Linked DNA regions of Homo sapiens: region 1 is linked to region 2. Evidence: fine-mapped expression QTL. A gene starts in region 2. The other region holds a variant in brackets. All regions are shown on one strand. Distances are between the middles of the regions. Region 1 has its middle 43 kb from the start of JAK2. Region 2 holds the start of JAK2 (Janus kinase 2).

Region 1 (9,499 bases), 44 kb before region 2:
TAGTACTTGTAGGGAAAAGATAAATCTTCAAATAAGTAAACAACTAGCCCAGTTTGGGAGGATGTCAGTTCTGCTTTCTCATTAAGATAAGGCAATCTTAAAATCATTAGAGAACTCACAAATGTGGCTATAAAAATAACAACAGTTACATAATTAGATTTCCTTGGCTGAAACCACTAATAAGACATTGCCAAATTTTAGCTTATTGTTGAAGATAAATCTCTCTCACCCATTCTCTCTCTCTCTTACACACACACGTGCACACACACACACACAATTTTTATTTTTCTGGCTTAGCATACTTTTATTTTAATTATAGGTTTTATCGTTTTTCACCATGTTAACAGAACAAAGTTGGTTTGTTGTTGAAGGATATGATTTAAATGGATAGCTATTGCTGTGGTTTACTGAAAGCACAATACTGCATTATTTTGAAAATATGTTTAATGAAGCATATTTTCATTTAAAGCATACCTGTACTTAATGGAAATTTTTGAGATCCATCATTTCTAAAGATGAAGAGAAGAGGCTGTGTAGCCACCAAATGCTTGCTGGCCCTCTAACGCCTAAAGTGCTACATTTATTTATTATAAGAATATAGAGATAATAAGACTGTTTATGAATTACAAATCAATAATGAAATAACTCTTGGGCTAAGGACAAAATCAAATGGAAATTATAAATCACATAAATATGAATGGGCACAGAAGCATTACTCTACAAAATCTGTGGGGTATGGTCAACATGTTGTTCAGAGGGAAATCTATAGCTTTCAATGTCCATATCAGAAAAGAAGAGACATGGAGAATAAATTAACCAAACTTTCAAATCAAAATTTAACTTCCTAATTCAACCATCAAACAAACAAACAAACAAACAAACAAACAAATAAAACACAAAGTAAAGAGAATGGAAAAAAATGTAATGGCAGGAAATAATGTGATAGAAAAGGATAATAGAGGCTGCTGAACTTGAGGAAATCCTCCTTTTACACAACAAGGATGTCAGCTGCCCAGACTCTGACTTGGAGACTCACCTCCCAGCCCAAGGAATATGCGTTATGAGAGTAAGAAATACATGATTACACCTCTGCATGGATGACTGCAAAGGGGACAATAATAACTAACAATAAGACCCATGTGTCAAGCATTATGCCAGGCAGCTTATATAAATTATATGGTTTAGTTGTATTTCTTCCTCATTTTCTGATAAGAATATTGAAACACAGGATGGCCTAGTAATTTCCTCAATACTGAGGGACAGTAATTAATGTAGCTGGAACTTGAACTTCAGAAGGGTTATTAAGTGGGGTTTAATTTACCACATGTTGTTAAAGATGCCATTGGCTTTAGAAACATCTTGTTTTGAAAATTCGTATCTGTTTGGGAAGATCATGATACTATCAGTCGGTCATGCTTTAGAGTGAAATGGTTCAAACAGATTGCTTTCCTTTCAACAGCTAGCTGAGGTTAGCTGTGTTAAGAGAATGGGAGTTTTGAAGTGGTTAAAGAGAAAGAAGTAATGCAGGAGTGGCACTGCTTAGAGGCTAACACCCCCATCGGAATACTGGGCAGCTGGTAAGCAAAAGTACAGAAAGGGAAGTGAGAAGATGCCAAAGATAAACTCTATTTCAAAATTCTGACTATGGTCAGCCCCACCCTCAAGAAGAGAGGGACAGGTTCTTCCTCTTTTTCTGTCCTGTACAAAGCAATCTCCTATTCCCAGGACCAGGAAGTTCAGGTCCAAGGGCCACTCTAAGGAAAATAGAGTTGGAAGGGACTTTAGGGGTCCTATCCAGTCTACTCACCACAAGGCCTCCCACACCCTCCTGCATGAATCCTCCAAACTCCTCCTGACCATCTTTGCATCTTTGTTGCTCCTTTGTTGTCTATTTGGGGCTCGAGTTAGTTGTTAGAAATTCCTTTCTATCAGCCAACAATCTTATCTCCCTTCAACTTCCCCTCATTTGTCTTATATCTGCCCCTGGAATTGCCCAGTCTGTGTGGTATTTGTTCCAATGGAATTTGATCTGTCATATACTGTTGCTTTTGGCTGATTTGCTAAATTGACTGGATCTCTCTCTAAACTCAATGATTTGGATCAAGGTAAATGCTGGTAAAATGTGCCAGCAATTTCTTTTTCAGAAAGATCTTGCTATTGCTCTGTTACTTTTGTTTGTTTGTTTTTTTTTAAAGAATGTTCCCAATAGATTCATTTTGAGGGAATAGATTCACCTATGAATCCATGGAGTGACCCACACAAAACACCTACATAAAAAAGAAACAAAAAGAGTATGTTTTCTTACTGACAAACACTACTTGAAAGCTCTTCAAGTCCTTCGTGGTATAATAAAGTAAATAGATATTGAGAAGAAGAGATCATCTAGTTAACAAACATGGAAAAATGTTCCACCTCACTTTTAATTTTAAAAGTGATAAGATACCCCTTCCATTCATTTGGCTACAAAGCATAGCAACATTTATAATAATATTTAATGTTTGTTAGTACTATAGTACATTACCAGTAGAATTAGAAACGTCTTTTAGAAATTGATTTAGCTATATGTATTGAGATCTTTTAGTTTTATTTATTTAGTAATTTTTAGAGGCAGGGTCTTGCTATGTCGCCCAAGCTGTTCTTGAACTCCTGAGCTCAAGGGATCCTTTTGCTTCAGTCTCCCAAGTAAGTAGAATGACAGGTGCAAGCCACTGCACCTGGCTATCAGGAGATTTTAAAATATTCTCATCCTTTCACCTAGTAGAATCTCCTGGGTATTTGTACTAAGGAAATAATCCAGAGATTAAAAAAATATGCCTACGGTTTGCACTTCTCACAGGAAAATTATTCATAATAGTGAAAAATTAGTCACAGCCTAAAATCTAACAACAGGAAATAGTTTAACTAGATTATGGTGCATCCACTCAATGGAAGATTATACAGCCATTTCAAATAACGATTATGAAAAAAACATTATATGTAATCTATATTGTCCTAGTGGAAATATCTTAGGTAAGTCAATGGTAGCGAATCAGAAAAATATTGAGACTCAGTAGTTTTTAGCCACATGAAAAATTCTTGCAGTATATAAAAAACAATGTATACAAAGAAATGCACCAAAATTATTATTATGACAGAAAAAGGGTGGGAGAAGTGTTTTTATATTTAATCAAGAGCTGTACTGTATAACTGAATTGTTTGCCAGCGGAGCAGAAGGCAGATGGCTTGGTTAAACTCACACATTCTTGCCCACTCCAGCTATTTTTATAAGGCTCTTACGGTTTTAGGATTTTCTTACATTTTTGTTGATTCTTGTACTCTATTTACTTCTTCTCCAACTTCATTATGGAATATTATCTAGTGTTTATTATTTGTCTGGGGTCCCCATTGATATTAGCAAAAAACACTGGTCATTGGGTTGTACTTGATTATTTGAGTCTTCAAAGCTCCTTGTCATTGCATATTGCGGGACTGAGAGTTAATATAAGGATATGATTCTATCAATCAATTTTCACAGATATATATGTCACTGAACACGAAATATGGGATATATTAGTCAGCTATTGTTACAATGCTGAGTAATAAACAGCTCCAAAACTCAGTGGCTCATAAAAATAAGCCTTTATTTTCCTTGTTCATGAGCCTGTGGATGATCTGGGATGCTCTGCTTCTTTTGCAGGACAGCTGGGCTTATATCAAAGCCTCAAGTTGGGATCAGGCCTGCTTCACATGTTCCCAAATCCCATTAGCTATCTGAGGCATATTCTTCTCCTGGTGGATTATGAAAGGCAAGAGGCCAAGTCAGGAGAATTGCTTGAACCCAAGAGGCAGAGACTGCAGTGAGCCGAGATTGTGCCACTGCACTCCAGTCTGGGTGACAGAGTAAGACCCTGTCTAAAAAAAAAAAAAAAAAAAAAAAAAAAGAGGCCAAGTCAAACTACTTAAGGCCTATGCTCATGTGTGCTATCATTTAATTGATCAAACCAAATCACATATGTAATTATGCCCAACATCAATGAGAGAGGGAAATAACTCCCATTAGAAGTTCACCTGACAGAAGGAGGGGGTAAAGAATTGAGAGCAATGATCTAATGTACCATAGGGACAATGTACAAACAGATTAATTTAAATAATTGGAAAGAAATACCTACTGACTTGCAGAATAGGTAGGATTATCTCCATGTGTGAAAAATATCCTATTTTTCGATTAGACTAATGAAAACTTAATAAAATAGTTGTTACCATATATTTCTTTTAAAGAATATGCAGTATCAATATATTTTAAGGACAGCTAAACATCCTGGGTGTTTAGCCAAGTAGAAACTGGTCCAGCTTTGACTATCCTGGGTGTTTAGCCAAGTAGAAACTGGTCTAGTTGTAAGTGGATTTTTTTGTTGTTGTTTATTCTTGGGGACCGAGTCTCGCTTGGTCACCCAGGCTGGAGTGCAGTGGTGCGATCTTGGTTCACTCCAACTTCTGCCTCTGGGGTTCAAGAAATTCTTGCGCCTCAGCCTCCCTAGTAGCTGGGACTACAGGTGTGTGCCACTACACCTAACTATTTTTTTTATTTTTATTTTTTGTATTTTTAGTAGAGATGGGGTTTCACCATGTTGGCCAGGCTGGTCTTGAACTCTTGACCTCAAGTGATCCACCCGCCTTGGCCTCTCAAAGTGCTGGGATTACAGGCATGAGCCACTGTTCCCGGCCTGTAGGTGGATTTCTGGCTTTGGGTTACACACACACACTTGTTTATAGGAGTTTGTAAGTAGGGAGTAAAATGTACTCTGAAAGGAAATCACTTGATAGGAACCACTATTTGGTAAGAAGAGGTGACTCAAGAAAAGAAGTTCCTTGTGGTTTTAAACTTTATTATGCTCCAG[G/C]TCCCTACAAAAATATGCTTTCTTTCTCCTTCTTCTTCTTCTTTTTTTTTAATAAGCTGATTTAAGGCAAAAGCTTTTAGCTAAATGTTACTGCTTTAAATTTTTCAAAACGAGAACACTTCTCAGCAAAATTTTTTATTTCTTTGTTTTAGTGTAGAAAGCAAAAGCAAGGGATAACTAAGTCTGAGTTCAAGCTAGATATATTTGTTTACATTGGAACAACAGCTTTAAAGTCTAGGAAAGAAGTGCTGATAGCTCAGAAGAAAAAGCAAGTAATGGGTTCCAGTAAAGTTGGTTAGGGAATTTTGTTTGTTTAATTTTTAAATTAGTAGGGGCCTTTCTCCAAAATGTTTGTTTTTAAGATTCAGGTTAAAATTTGCATAGATACAAGAGATGTGGGAATTAGTCAATATCAGAGAAAGATGCTGAGGTAATTTCCATTTCAGAAAATTTATCTAGCTTTGCCTAAATGGATAAATGGAGACATTTGAAGCATAAGAGTTTGGCATTTCATGTCCCAGCTTAGAGGACTTCCACTTGAAACAGAACAATTGGTTTGAAGCACAGTATCTAGATCCTTTCTCCAAAGAGAAAGAAAATTGCCCATTCAACCAGCAATTATCTCTAATTAAGGAATGGAAGCACAAGTTTTCGGTAGTATCACTACCTGGCAGTCTGCATGCAATCAAGCAAGGCAAGGTTCCTATATCCACAGGAGTTTTTTCTTGACTAGAAAAAAAAATTAGGATAATTAAGCAAGTTGTAGCAATCATTTTTTACGATCAAAAAGACTGCAACAGATTTAATTAATTCTTTGGTAGATGCAGAAAGTAGTATTTATGCTTTTCTAAAGGCCAGTATTCACCGTGGACTAACAGCAAAATGTTTCAATACCATCTCAGCAGAGTCTGTATTTGATTTCACAGTATTCTGTAAAGTGTCAGGCATTTTAGAGATATCGCTAACAGAAAGGTTATGCTTTCTAAATACAGTCACACAACTACTTCGTACCTATGATATAATTAGACTGTGACACTCTTGAGGACATCTAAACTTCAACCTGTTTAAAAATATAAATCCCTATGAACGATCAAAGAAAATGTGCTTCAGGCAATTTATCTGCAGTAAAATGATTTAACTATGGGACAATCATGTTCATTTCTTCATATCTTTAATATAAAGTTTACCATTTAAAATGATTTCATTGCTTAGCTGGAAAGCTATACTCTACTGACTAGTATAAGATTTTTTAAAATCTTGTTTGTTTCTTCTTCAGAGAAATGGTAGAGTTTTTAAAATAAAAAGTGCATTTATTTCTTTATAACATTAATATCTGTCACTATAAATAACTTGAAAAATCTTCCAAAGTGTCAACACCTGAAGTCAATTGTGTGTTTCCTTTCAGGTTTTTTTTTTTCAAGAGAATTAAATCGTTTATTGATTATGCATGATAATGGAAGGTACACAAACTTCATTCCCATCTATAATTTTATTGGGTACCATTATTCAATTTAGATATATTGCATAGGATATGCCAACAATCGTTTTAATAACCAATAATTCCATGATTTTGCTTTGCTAATCCCTTTTAATGGTGAACTTCAGGTCACAACAGTAACTATCAGTTCAACCACACCAAGGTTTCTGAAGACAATGGTTTCTCCACCCAAGCAGGTTGTATATAAATTCCAAAAAGAACCTGGCATCACCCTGAAGGAACTCTAACTTCACACTGTAGGGGAAATTTACCAAGATGGCTTCAGAGTAGAACAACTTTACACAGCACATTAAAAAAAAAAAAGACATTTATTCAGCGTCCCAATCAGGCTATTATATTTAGCAATCAACAGCATAGGTGAAAAAAAAATCTACATTAAAACCCTTTGTTGGCATGGTTTACACTTTCCACAGAACAGAAACTAAAATAACCTGTTACACAATTAGTCACAAATACAGTCCTCGAGTTTTTTGCCCACACACATGAGTATTTGTCTAAAACATGTCTGCTTTGTAGCAGCTGGGCCCTGCCACCACTGTGCTTGGCTGAGTTCACAAATCTGTTGTAACCTGTAGCTTCCCTGTCACTTCTCTGGCTCTCCTCTCCTGCTAAGCTTTGTTTCCTAATTAAAATCTTCTGCCACTGCCATAGCTACTGCTGCTACTGGAACCACCATAGCCACCTTGGTTTTGTGGTTTGGCAAAGTATTGGCCTCCACCACCACAGGGGACAGAGCTTCTGCCTCCAAAGTTTCCTCCCTTCAGGGGTCCAAAATTTGGAGACTGATTGTTGTAATTGTCAAAATCACTGTAGCTTCCGCCACCTCCAAAATTGCTTCCATCATTACCAAATCCACTGTAGTCATCCCCAGCCACCATATTCACCACCACCACAGCTGCCACCAAAGCCACCACGACCATGGAAGTTTCCTCCATGACCCAAGTTGTCATTCCCGCTGAAACCACCTCCATGACCACCACCAAAGTTTCCAGAACCACTCTTGCTTTGACAGGGCTTTCCTAGCTTCACAGCTGTGGCCATTCAAGTATGCTATTTCTGAATGACAGTCTTATCCATGGAGTCACCGTTGTCAAACGTTACAAAGGCAAAGCCCCTTTTCTTGCCAATGCCTCGGTCAGTCATGATTTCAATCACTTCAATTTTTTCCATACTGTTCAAAATGATCCCTTAGGTGATGTTCTTCAGTGTCTTCTTTAATGCCACCAACAAATATATTTTTCACAGTTAACTGGGCACCTGGTCTTTGAGAATTTTCTCTTGAGACAACTCTCTTTGCTTCTACAACTCTTTTTTTTTTTTTTTTTTTTTTTTTTTTTTTTGAGATGGAGTCTTGCTCTGTCGCCCAGGCTGGAGTGCAGTGGTGCCATCTCAGCTCACTGCAAGCTCCGCCTCTCGGGTTCATGCCATTCTCCTGCCTCAGCCTCCTGTGTGGCTGGGACTACAGGCGCCTGCCACCACATCTGGCTAAGTTTTTGTATTTTTAGTAGAGACGGGTTTCACCGTGTTAGCCAGGATGGTCTCGATCTCCTGACCTCGTGATCCGCCTGCCTTAGCCCCCCAAAGTGCTGGGATTATAGGCGTGAGGTTCTACAACTCTTCCATCTACCTTGTGTGGCCTTGCATTCATGGCTGCATCCACCTCCTCCACAGTGGCACACATGACAAACCCACAGGCCCTGGAGCGCTTGGTGTTTGGATCTCTCATTACCACACAGTCCGTGAGCGTTCCCCATTGCTCAAAATGGCTCCTCAGGCTCTCATTGGTTGTTTCAAAGCTCAACCCTCCAATGAAGAGCTTCCTTAGCTGTTTGGGCTCTTTAGGAGACTCTTGACTTAGACATGACTGACAGGGAGAAGAGAGACTTTAACCATGCTTCCTTGGTGGCCTCCACGGGCAGGTAGGTTTGTTTTGTTTTGTTTTGTTTTGTTTTGTTTTGGTAAATAGTTTTCCCACCATTTTATTATAAGCATTATCAAATATACTGAATAATTGAAATAATCAGAAACAACAAATTTGCATATATCCACCATCTTTTTTTTTTTTTTTGAGACAGAGTTTCCCTCTGTTGCACAGGCTGGAGAGCAATGGGGAATGGGGGGATCTCAGCTCACTGCAACCTCTGTCTCTTGGGTTCAACCAATTCTCATGCTTTAGCCTCCCACGTAGCTGAGATTATGTGCACTGTGCACCACCACATCCGGCTAATTTTTGTATTTTTAGTAGAGATGGGGTTTCACCATGTTGGCCAGGCTGATCTTGAACTCCTAGCCTCATGTCATCTGCCCACCTTGGCCTCTCAAAGTGCTGGGATCACAGGCGTGAGCTACCACATTCAGCCACTACCATCTAGATTCTACAATTAGCAATTAATTTGCTTTATTATACATTTATTCAACCATCTATTTGTTGATACCTCTGTCCATCCATTAATCCATCTTTTTTTTTGAGGCATTTCAAGGTAAGTTGTAGATATCAACATACTTCATTCAATACTTCAGCATGCATATCATTTAGAGTCATGTATATGAGTTTTTCTTGGTAAGATTTTACATATAGTAGATGCACAATCTGTATTTTATTTATTTATTTATTTTTGGAGACAGACCTCTGTCACCCAGGCTGGAGTGCAGTGGTGCTATCATGGCTCACTGAAGCCTCAACTTCCCAGGCTGAAGTAATCTTCCCACCTCAGCCTCCCGAGTAGCTGTGTCTCTAGGTGCATGCCACTAGGCCTAGCTAATTCTTAAAATTTTTTTGTAGAGACAGGGTCTCACAATTTTGCCCAGGCTGGTCTCAAACTCCTGGCCTCAAGTTATCCTCTCACCTTAGCCTCCCAAGTAGCTTAAATTACTGGCATAAGCCACCATGCCCAGCTTTGATGCACAATCTTAAGTATACCATTCAGTGAATTTTGACAAATGCAGACACTTATATAATCCAAACTCCTATCAAGATAGAGAATATTTATATCTTCCCAGAAAGTTCACTCACATTCCTTCCCAGAAAATCCCCACATATCCATCCCTCAAAAGGCAACCACTACTCTCACATTTTTCAACATGTCTTAATATAGTACAGTGTGTAAGAGTTTCAGTGTTCCAT
Region 2 (9,499 bases):
TGATCCACCCACGCTGGACTCCCAAAGTGCTGGGATTACAGGTGTGAGCCACTGCGCCTGGCCGAAATTTTGTTTTTAAGAGTGAATGCTGGCATGAATCCTTTCACACACACAAAAAATGTTTTTCGTGAATAGGCAACTATATGTCTAACAGTTTTAAGTTAAATTTTTTAAAAGTAGCACATAGTTATAATGGTCATTTTACATATTTTGCCAAATAATTATCCTCACTTGAAAGAGGTTATTAATTCTTGGCTTACAAAGGGAAAACTGTTTTGGTTTTCAAGCACCAAAGTTTAATACATCCAGTTATCTCAAGGGAATGAGGGATCTGTTCACTGGCAATATCTTTTTTGTTTTCCTTTTCTTTTTGTGATTGAAAGTAAGGATAAGGGAACTGATGTAGAGACAAGGACATGCTGAAGTACCGAGGAGGTATTGGAAAATTTCTTTGCCATAGCCAACCAAATTTTGGAATAAATGGTACTAAAATATCTGGATGATTTGTAGTAAAAAAAACATTGCTTGCTTGTCTGTCTACTTGATTAATACCCCTTGCCTTTGTCTTTTGGCTTATAATCCTACATTTGGAATAAATAAGCCTCTTTCCATATTTTATTCCTTTCTGCCTTCAGGAAAGTACATCTTCCCTGTTTTGGAAAGAAACAAACTAACTCCTGGACTTCTCCCCAGCCCTTCGTTTGAGCCTGTTTCCCTTTCCAAGGACTTTCCTGCATCTTTTTTTGTGCTCACATTTATGTCCCTCCTTAAGAATGATGTTTTCAGTCTCATCATTTAATGATATAGTTCTGTTTTTTAAAATTCAAATGGAGATCTTCACATTTATCTCTATTACAACTCAGCCCTTATCCTACCAGCCCACACAGTCCTGTGTAGTGCAATAAACTGTGACAAATACTTCAATCTTCCTAATAAAATTCAACAAATTTCTTATACCTCCCAGCTTGGTTATATCTGTAAATTGGTCCTGCCACAGATATAATAGACATTTGATAACTGTGCTAAGGGTTTTAAAATACTTTTTCACCTAATCTTCAAAATCTCTCTACAGGGGAGATTATTATCCTCATTATACTGATGAGGAAACAGAGGCTTAGAAAATCTAAATAAACTTTCCTGGCAAAAGCTGTGATTGAAAGAAACCTGGGTGGTCTGGACTCTTAAAGCGTAAGTTCTTAAACCCTTGGCCATGGATTTTCAACCGTGGCTTTATGTCAAACCACCTAAAAATGTTAAAAAGTTATAGAAGCCAATGCGCCATCTCACACTTACTGAGGCAGTCTTGTTGGGGTGGGGGGAAGGTTTGGGCATAGCAGTCAAGAATCACTGCTGCCATGCTGGCCAACACTGGAAGGACAAAACCTCAAGACACTACACACAGCCCCACAGTCAACAACTAGCTGTTAAGTTTTCCCATTAGATCTTGCCACAAAGTTTTGAATCTAAATGTGTTACCTTACAGCTCATATTTCTTGTTTCTTCATATTGTATGAATGTTTTGAAAGACTTGGTCAAATTCCTTGGAATTCTTTTCATCATTATCAAAGAATAAGGGAAATTTCCTGAAATGTTTGCCTTGAGTAGCAAATTTCTAGTGATGCCACTACCAGGAATCACATAAAGAGCTCAAAAGTTCTGTTAATACAGAGTGAAAAAAGCTCAACATTCCAGGTTAGCATTGACTTAAAATCATGTCTTAGTGATGAGGGAGGCTTTCACTTTCTGAATGACAGGAGGCAAGTTGCTTCATCTTTCTATGTGGGGAGACAGAAGATTTCTCAATTCTATAGGCTTATGAATAATATACCCCTTGTCCACCTTGTCTTCCATACCCACATCTCTAATATTAAGAAAATAACCTGCTCCCCCACAAAAATATCCTCAATATTCACCACTTCCAAATGGCTTCTCCCTGCAATTCACCAATTTCAAATGGCTTCTCCCTGCAAACAGGCTGTGGACAGTAAGAGATACCATGCCTAGTTACATAAGTATATCACTGCAAAATATAGAAACATCACTTATAATGAAAGTAATACTGTTTCAGAGTTCTAAAACAAGCATTTTCTTCCCCTCACAAAATATCACATTTCCATTTCCACAGTTGTGATGCTTTTCATTTACCCATGACGTTAAGCTCATCTTTAGCTCTTCTTCATTATGTGGGTCTGTGTTCTAGCTTTTACCTCAGTAGCAGTTTTTGTTTGCAGGAAAAAAGGAACTCTTTTGGTAGTCACTGTTTGTAATTGCGGCCTTGATATTCTAAGCCATTGAGTCACAATTAATAATTAGAAATTCTTACTAACTTTGCCCATATATTACCTATGAAGCAGTAGCCGTAGGAATGCAATTTTCCTGTAAATCCCTCCCTCTTATACAGCTCTAGTTCATTATTTAAAAGATTCAGGGTGAATTCAAGTAATTTCCTATGCTGCTATCATTTGCTTAAAGACCTTTTGCAATGGGTCTTATGTAAGAAGAAATGCAGGAGTTGCTTTGGTGAGGTTTATTTAAAGAAACCATTAAGTGCAAGACAGACCTGAAGAGCAGCATCAGTTGTGTATGGGGAAACAGGAGCTATGAATGCGTCACTTCATTTAGGTTGACAGAAAGAGGGCTAATACTTGAAAAAAATCCCTACACGATCTGGTGCCAGGCTACTTCTTTGGCCTCACCTCTTACCACTGCCCCCTCCTTCCGTGTCCTCCAGCCACAGTGACCTCTTTCCTGATCCTTGAACTTGCCAAACACTTTCCCTTCTCAAGGTCTTTGCCTTCAGGAGTCCCTCTGCCTGAAATTCTTTTCCCAGATAGTCATGGGACTGGTTCATTCTCATCCTTCAGATCTCTGCTCAAATGTCACTTATTCTAGGAAATCGTTCCTGGCCACCGTAAAATAGCACACCCCCTCCTCACTTTCTACTCCTTTTCTTTGTTATTATGTATATGGCAGCAGAAAACTATGCATTTTCTTAGTGGCAATTACACACCCCGCACATTATGCATTTAAAGCGTTGTTTGTTGTTTTGTCGCTTCCATCAGAATACAATCCAGTAGGGCAAGGAGTGTGTGGGGTCGTGTTCACCTGGTATCTCTGGGGACCTACAGCCCGGCACCTAGTAGACACTCAGTAAATATTTGAATGAATGAATGAGGCCCTTTGGCAGCCGGGAAGCCCGTCACAGCCGTTGTCTCCACCCTCTCCCGGGCTACACCAGGCCACGCCGGTAAAGTTGTTTCTCCTCTAGGAGAAACATTCGCTAGGCCTTGTTGCCAACCCGCAGGCGGCTGGGCGCTTCATCCCACCCTCACCCCTTTCCAGCCAAGGTGGCTGATGGGAGTCAGGCTCTCGAGGGCGCATTGCCACGAAACAGCGTGTGTGAGCGCGTTGTCCCCGGCCCCCGGCGCCACTTCCCCTCGGCCTAGCAGCCTGGACTGGGGAAGGACGGGTCTGCTGTACCCGGGAGGTGGAAGGAAAAGCCGAAAGCGGAGAAGTGTGCGGGAGGGGAGTCTCCGCGCGGAGGCAGCCCGGCCTCCTCCAGTGCAGGCTGCGCGCTGGGGAGCCAGCCAGGGTGAGTCACTCCCGGCCGCTTCCCTGGAGGGCGGCGGCCACACACACACCCGCCCATCTAGTGAGGGCCGGGCCCAGCGCTGGCGCCTAGCTCCAGCCGGGCACCAGCGTTTCGCGAGGCGCCGCCGCCTTAACTTCCTTGCGCGCTCACGCCCAGGGGCCGTCCCAGGAATCTCCACGCGCGCTCGCCGGCTTCCCGAGAGGCAGCTGCCCTGCGTGGCCCGCGCCTGCCGGTCCCGCGACCAGCACCGAGCGGCGCACGCGCACTGCAGGACGCGCGTCCGGCTCTCCCCCAGCCTCTATCCGGCCCGGTCTCCTGCCATTCGGGGAGACTGCAGGCCAACCGGGAGGCTGAGTTCGAAGCTAGCAGGGCGGCGAAGCCAGTGTCGCCCGCGGCGTTGAGAAGACGGTGTGGCCCCGGAGAGGGTGGAGACAACTGTGACGGGCTTCCCGGCTGCCCGAAGTGGGAGTGGTGTGGGGCTGCAGGAAGGAGAGAGGAAGAGGAGCAGAAGGGGGCAGCAGCGGACGCCGCTAACGGCCTCCCTCGGCGCTGACAGGCTGGGCCGGCGCCCGGCTCGCTTGGGTGTTCGCGTCGCCACTTCGGCTTCTCGGCCGGTCGGGCCCCTCGGCCCGGGCTTGCGGCGCGCGTCGGGGCTGAGGGCTGCTGCGGCGCAGGGAGAGGCCTGGTCCTCGCTGCCGAGGGATGTGAGTGGGAGCTGAGCCCACACTGGAGGGCCCCCGAGGGCCCAGCCTGGAGGTCGTTCAGAGCCGTGCCCGTCCCGGGGCTTCGCAGACCTTGACCCGCCGGGTAGGAGCCGCCCCTGCGGGCTCGAGGGCGCGCTCTGGTCGCCCGATCTGTGTAGCCGGTGGGTGTTATCTCTGCCTGGCTTCTGGGTGGGGGGCAGCAGCTGTCTCTCCACCCCCTTCCTACCTTTTGGTCCCGCCTGCCCCCTGCTAGTGGCAGCAAACTTCTGAGCCAGAAAAATCTTCCTCTTTAAGACGACACCTAGAACGAGTCTTGCTGGTGATATTTGCTTCCATTTGTGTCTTATAATTCCCTCGCTCCCGCCTCCTTATTCCTTTTTAAAATTTTCTAGACACTTAAACAGCCTAGAAAAAGCATTTGTTTCCCCTGGATTTATGTGGTAGTAGTTAACTGCTGCTTCTGTTTTTAGGTTTCAGAAGCAGGCAACAGGAACAAGATGTGAACTGTTTCTCTTCTGCAGAAAAAGAGGCTCTTCCTCCTCCTCCCGCGACGGTGGGTGTGCTGTCCTTTATCGCTGCAGTAAAGGCGAAGGTGTCTGGAGCTGGGAGTGCGTGCGTAGGGAAGGTTGGAAGCGTGTGAAGAGAGGCAGGGCTCATTGTTGCTTACTCTTCTGAAAATGTCAGTGCTAAACTTTTAATGTTGATCTGGGAGAGTAATTTTGGGGTGTTTTGTTGTTCGTCTTGGATCCTTTAAGAAACATTTTTTTGTTGGCTTTACACATAACGTGACTTTGCAGAGAAACGAAAAACGTTGTCCATTACCCTTTCTTCTTAAGCAGCCAGAGATTCTTAATCCTTTAAAGAGGAGTATTTCCAAGCAATAAGAGATAGCTTTTGGGAGAACACGTTAGCTATTCTTGCTGGGGTTTCTGCTACCACATTGAATGTTTCCTCATGGTTTTATCTGCCTAAGCTTGCTGTGTCGGTTGAATTTACCCAGTTTGTTTTCCAGTAATTACTAATCTGTTAGGAGAAACTCCATTTCTCTGAATGAAAGGGTAGGAGCGGCTGAGTATGGAGAAGGAAACTGGAAGTGGGAATAAGGGAAATGATTGCTTTTGGTTTCATAATAAGTTTGTACAGTGAGTTGTTGGGCTACTGCAAATAAAGATTTTGTATCCCTTCTCCAGAATGCTTGGGACCAAAAGTGTTTTGGATTTTTTTTAAAAATTTTGGAATGTTTGCATATACAAAATCAGACATCTTGAGGATGGGACCCAAGTGTAAATACGAAATTCGTTTGTTTCATATAGACCTTATTCACACAGCCACTAAGTCATTTGCAATATTTTTAATACGTCTGTGCATGAAACAAAGTTTGTATTAAGTACCTATGCGGGGAATTTTCCCCTTGTAGCATCATGTTGGTGCTCAAAATGTTTCAGATTTTGCAGCTTTTCAGATAAGGGATGATCAGCTTGTATTTTGATATAACACCCAGAACATTTGAAGATGAATAATCAATTTTTGGCCTCCCTTCCCCCATCCGCCTCACCTTATACCACTTTAAGTGTGAGAATTATTTGCTTGTACATGCATTTGTCTGTTGGTGTGTAACGTATGTACAGACTGGATGTATCCAGCACTTGCCTTAATAGTACATGTATTTACCTGAATAGGAAAGCTGCAGTACTTGCTGGCCAGAAGAGCACACCATGCTTGTTTTTGCTCTAACTGAATATCCTGTATTTGCAATTTATAGCAGTTTTAGGGACTCATTAGGGAATTTTGTGTGTGTGTGCCTTTGGTGATTTGAGACAGGTGTCTCAGATATGGGAAGGGAATATGACATTGTTTCTCTTTCACCTGGCTATTACTGAAAGGTGGGATGCTTTTGAGGCAGAATAGGAAAGTGCATTGGCTTTGGAGTGAGATCTGGATTTGAATCCTGGTGTTCTTGCCACTTAAGAGTTGCATTATTTACGGCTGGTCATGGTGGCTCACGCCTGTAATCCCAGCACTTTGGGAGGCTGAGGAAGGAGGATCACTTGAGGTGAGGAGCTTGAGACCAGCCTGGCCAACATGGTGAAACCCCATCTCTACTAAAAATACAAAAATTAGCCGGGCGTGGTGGTGCACACCTGTAATCCCAGCTACTCGGGAGGGTGAGGCAGGAGAATTGCTTGAACCTGGGAAGTGGTGGTTGCAGTGAGCCGAGATCTCACCACTGCACTCCAGGCTGGGCAACACAGCAAGACTCTGTCTAAAAAAAAAAAAAAAAAGAAAGAAAAAAAGAGTTATATTATTTACGACTCTTTTAGCTTCACTTTCTTATAAGATTGTTGTGAGAAGTGAGTAAGACACATGCAAAGTGGTAAACTGCCTGGCTGTCATAAAAGTCTTGGCTACTATCACGGCTGGGAGGCAAAGGAGATTCAGAGAAGGGCAGAATGACTGCATAAGGTGATCTGCCTGTAACTCGTGTTTCCTCCTTTCTAGTATAAAGAGATAAAGGACTTCAAGGTCTTAAACTGGTGAGGGAGTATTACAGCCTTTGTATGGAAAGGTTTGACTTTGTGTCTCTGCTTAAACCCCCATTGTGTTGCCCCTACCAATTATTGTGCTGCCCCCTTGTGGTTAACTGTGCTAAGACCTTTCTTTTGCTCTTCTCCCATTACATTTCCCACCCTTCCCCACTCCCTTTTAGACCCCTCCTCTTAGCTCCCAGTTTCCCAAACTGTGTGCCAAGGTGCCCAGAGCACCTCAGGCTTGAACTTGTGTTTTGAGTTGGTTCATGGTTTCAATATTAGATACCTACACCCGTTTCTACAATGTCATGTCTTTGTAAAGATGTATTTTCAGAGGTTGCTCCGATAAAAAGCAACTACTACATGAAAATGAATGTAGAACAGGAAATGACAGTGTGGTATTGTCCAATTTGATTCTAAGGTTTGATAAGTTCTACAGTGCTCTACACTAAGTTGTAAGGACATAACTACTAAGTAAGTTGTTCAAACCTATTTCTTTTGGCCTGGGGGTGTCGTGAAAAATTTGCTAAGACTCAGAGCTCCCTGAATGGGTTTGGAAACCTCTGCCTTAGCTTTTAGTTTGCTTTTCTGATAAAATTATTGATATAAAGCTAGTACCAGCTGATCATGGCTTAATATATTTCCTCTCCTATGTAATATGTTTATAACTTCTGCCCAGTTCTTTCATTTTAAAACTAATCCTATTGCTAACTTGTTGTACTAGTCACTTCCTGGTTTTTCCTGTACTGGTCTTCTGCTTCTACTTCTGTTCATCTCCTTAAACTCCGAATGCCCCAAGTGAAAGTTACCATTTTCTACCCCTTAATTTTCTTCTAATCATGTAGGCTTTAAATTAGGCATCATCTTTAAACTACTTCTTTCATTTACCTCTTATTCCCATTCAAAATGTCCATATTTCCTTTCTTTCTCATATCTCTGCTTTCCCTCCTTTACTGTGTGAATCCCAGGACACATTTCCTGAGCCTAGAATATTGAAAGTCATTTGAACTTCTGAGAATTCAGTGTCCCTTCCTTCTGTTTATCCTCAATAGAGATTCCACTCTAATACTCCTTATTATAGCATTCCCTTGCCCCAAAACCTTCAGTGGCTTACCATTTTCTACTTATTAAATTTTCCTGACTTTTAAGATAGTCTATTATCAATCCCTGCCCTATTTATTTAGTCTTTTGTCTAAGGATCTCTAGTCCTTAAGCTTGTAAGCTGATTTCCACACTTTCTAATAATAAGCTATGCTTCTTCTATCCTTTAATTTTTGCCCATGTTCTCCATCCCTCTTTTTTTTCCTCTATTTCTGTAGCTCTTTAGTCTTAGAACATTTTCACATGGTTTAATTATATGCCATGCTTTAGTTGTTTGATAGTTATTTCCCTAGTGTTAGCCATATCTTTTCAAGTTGATTGTGTATTCTTTGAGGAGCAGTACCTTAGATTAAAAAAAAACCACAACACACAGTGGAGAGCACATGGGCAGCATTCAAGAAATACATGTTGATTGTGTGATAAGGAACTGTAGTCACCAAACAAATATTTGTTAATACTTGCAATGTAAAAGGTACTTGGCTGTATTCAAAAGAGAAATAAAGAAATATAAAATAGGCTCCTTTCCCTAAGGACTTACAGTATAATTGGGCAGATAAGCTAAATAATAAAAGTTACAGATATTTAAGACCACTTGAGTTGAGCAGAGATTTTGCATAATAGGAAGGAACTGGTAGAGGGGGTAAGCAAAGGCAAAATATGTATATATGTATGATATGTTCAGAGAGCAGTACATAAATAACTTGACTGAAATGAAGATTTGTGTGAAAGAGTAGTAAGAAATTGTGTTAAAAATGTAGTTGGAATTTGATTATGGATGTCTTTAAATGCTAGGATGAGAAGAATGTACTTTGACCTGTAGATATGGAGAAGCTTTAAAAGTTTTGAATTGAGAAAGAGTTTGCTGAAATAAGTATTTTAGGAAAATCAAAGCAGCACCAGTGCTAGGTCTCATATGAATTGGAAAGAGAATGGTAGAAAGAGGTAGGAAAATAATTGAGCCCTGAAGTAATGAGGACTTAGAAATAAGTCAGATTGCAGAGATGTCACAAGACATTATTATGGATTGGATAAGAAGGGAGAATGGAGGGGAGAAGAGTGATTAAAGATTACCTTACCTTGAAGGTTTGCTTTTCAGTGACGGAGGAAATCAAAGAGTGTTGACTCTCCAAGACATCTTAGAACATCTAAGTCTATATGTTTTGTATATTAGGACTCAGACCAGAGAGATTTAAAAATGTGTCCAAAGTTACTCAGCTAGTTAATGACAAAGAAACTGCCGTTTGATTAATGGCAGTTACTAACAAAAATAGTTATGGCAGTGTTAGTAGCTGGTAGAGGGGATGTAGACAGTTGAGCGTATATTGTGGATATGTTGAGTTTGCGGTGGCCGTGGGATGGGCAAGTGAAAATTGATAGCATACAGTGGGACATATGACTAGAATTTGTTAGCGAAGTTAAGGCTGGTGCTGTGGTACTTAAGAGAAAAGAGTGGGATTGCCCATAATTAGCGGGTGGGTGAAAGGAGAGGAATGGGTAAAGGAGACAAAGAAAAAAACAGTATGAGAGGCAAATTAGTGGATAGGTTAGGAGGCGGAATGATCAACATGTTGATC

The links.
Region 1: its variant is fine-mapped to the expression of JAK2 in whole blood (TOPMed, PIP 0.96).

What each region holds. Positions count from the first base shown.
Region 1 is chr9:4,937,669-4,947,167 of GRCh38, forward strand. It overlaps the pseudogene HNRNPA1P41. Among named protein-coding and RNA genes, the nearest start is that of JAK2, 43 kb to the right of the region's middle. The variant G/C (reference allele first, on the strand shown) is at 4,878.
Region 2 is chr9:4,981,174-4,990,672 of GRCh38, forward strand. It overlaps JAK2 (Janus kinase 2), which reads left to right and starts at 4,099. Exons shown (of 25, transcript NM_004972.4): 1 at 4,099-4,457; 2 at 4,767-4,849. RefSeq lists silencers at 2,052-2,181, 3,632-3,681, 3,722-3,801, 4,192-4,521 and enhancers at 3,150-3,983, 3,912-4,051, 4,852-4,901.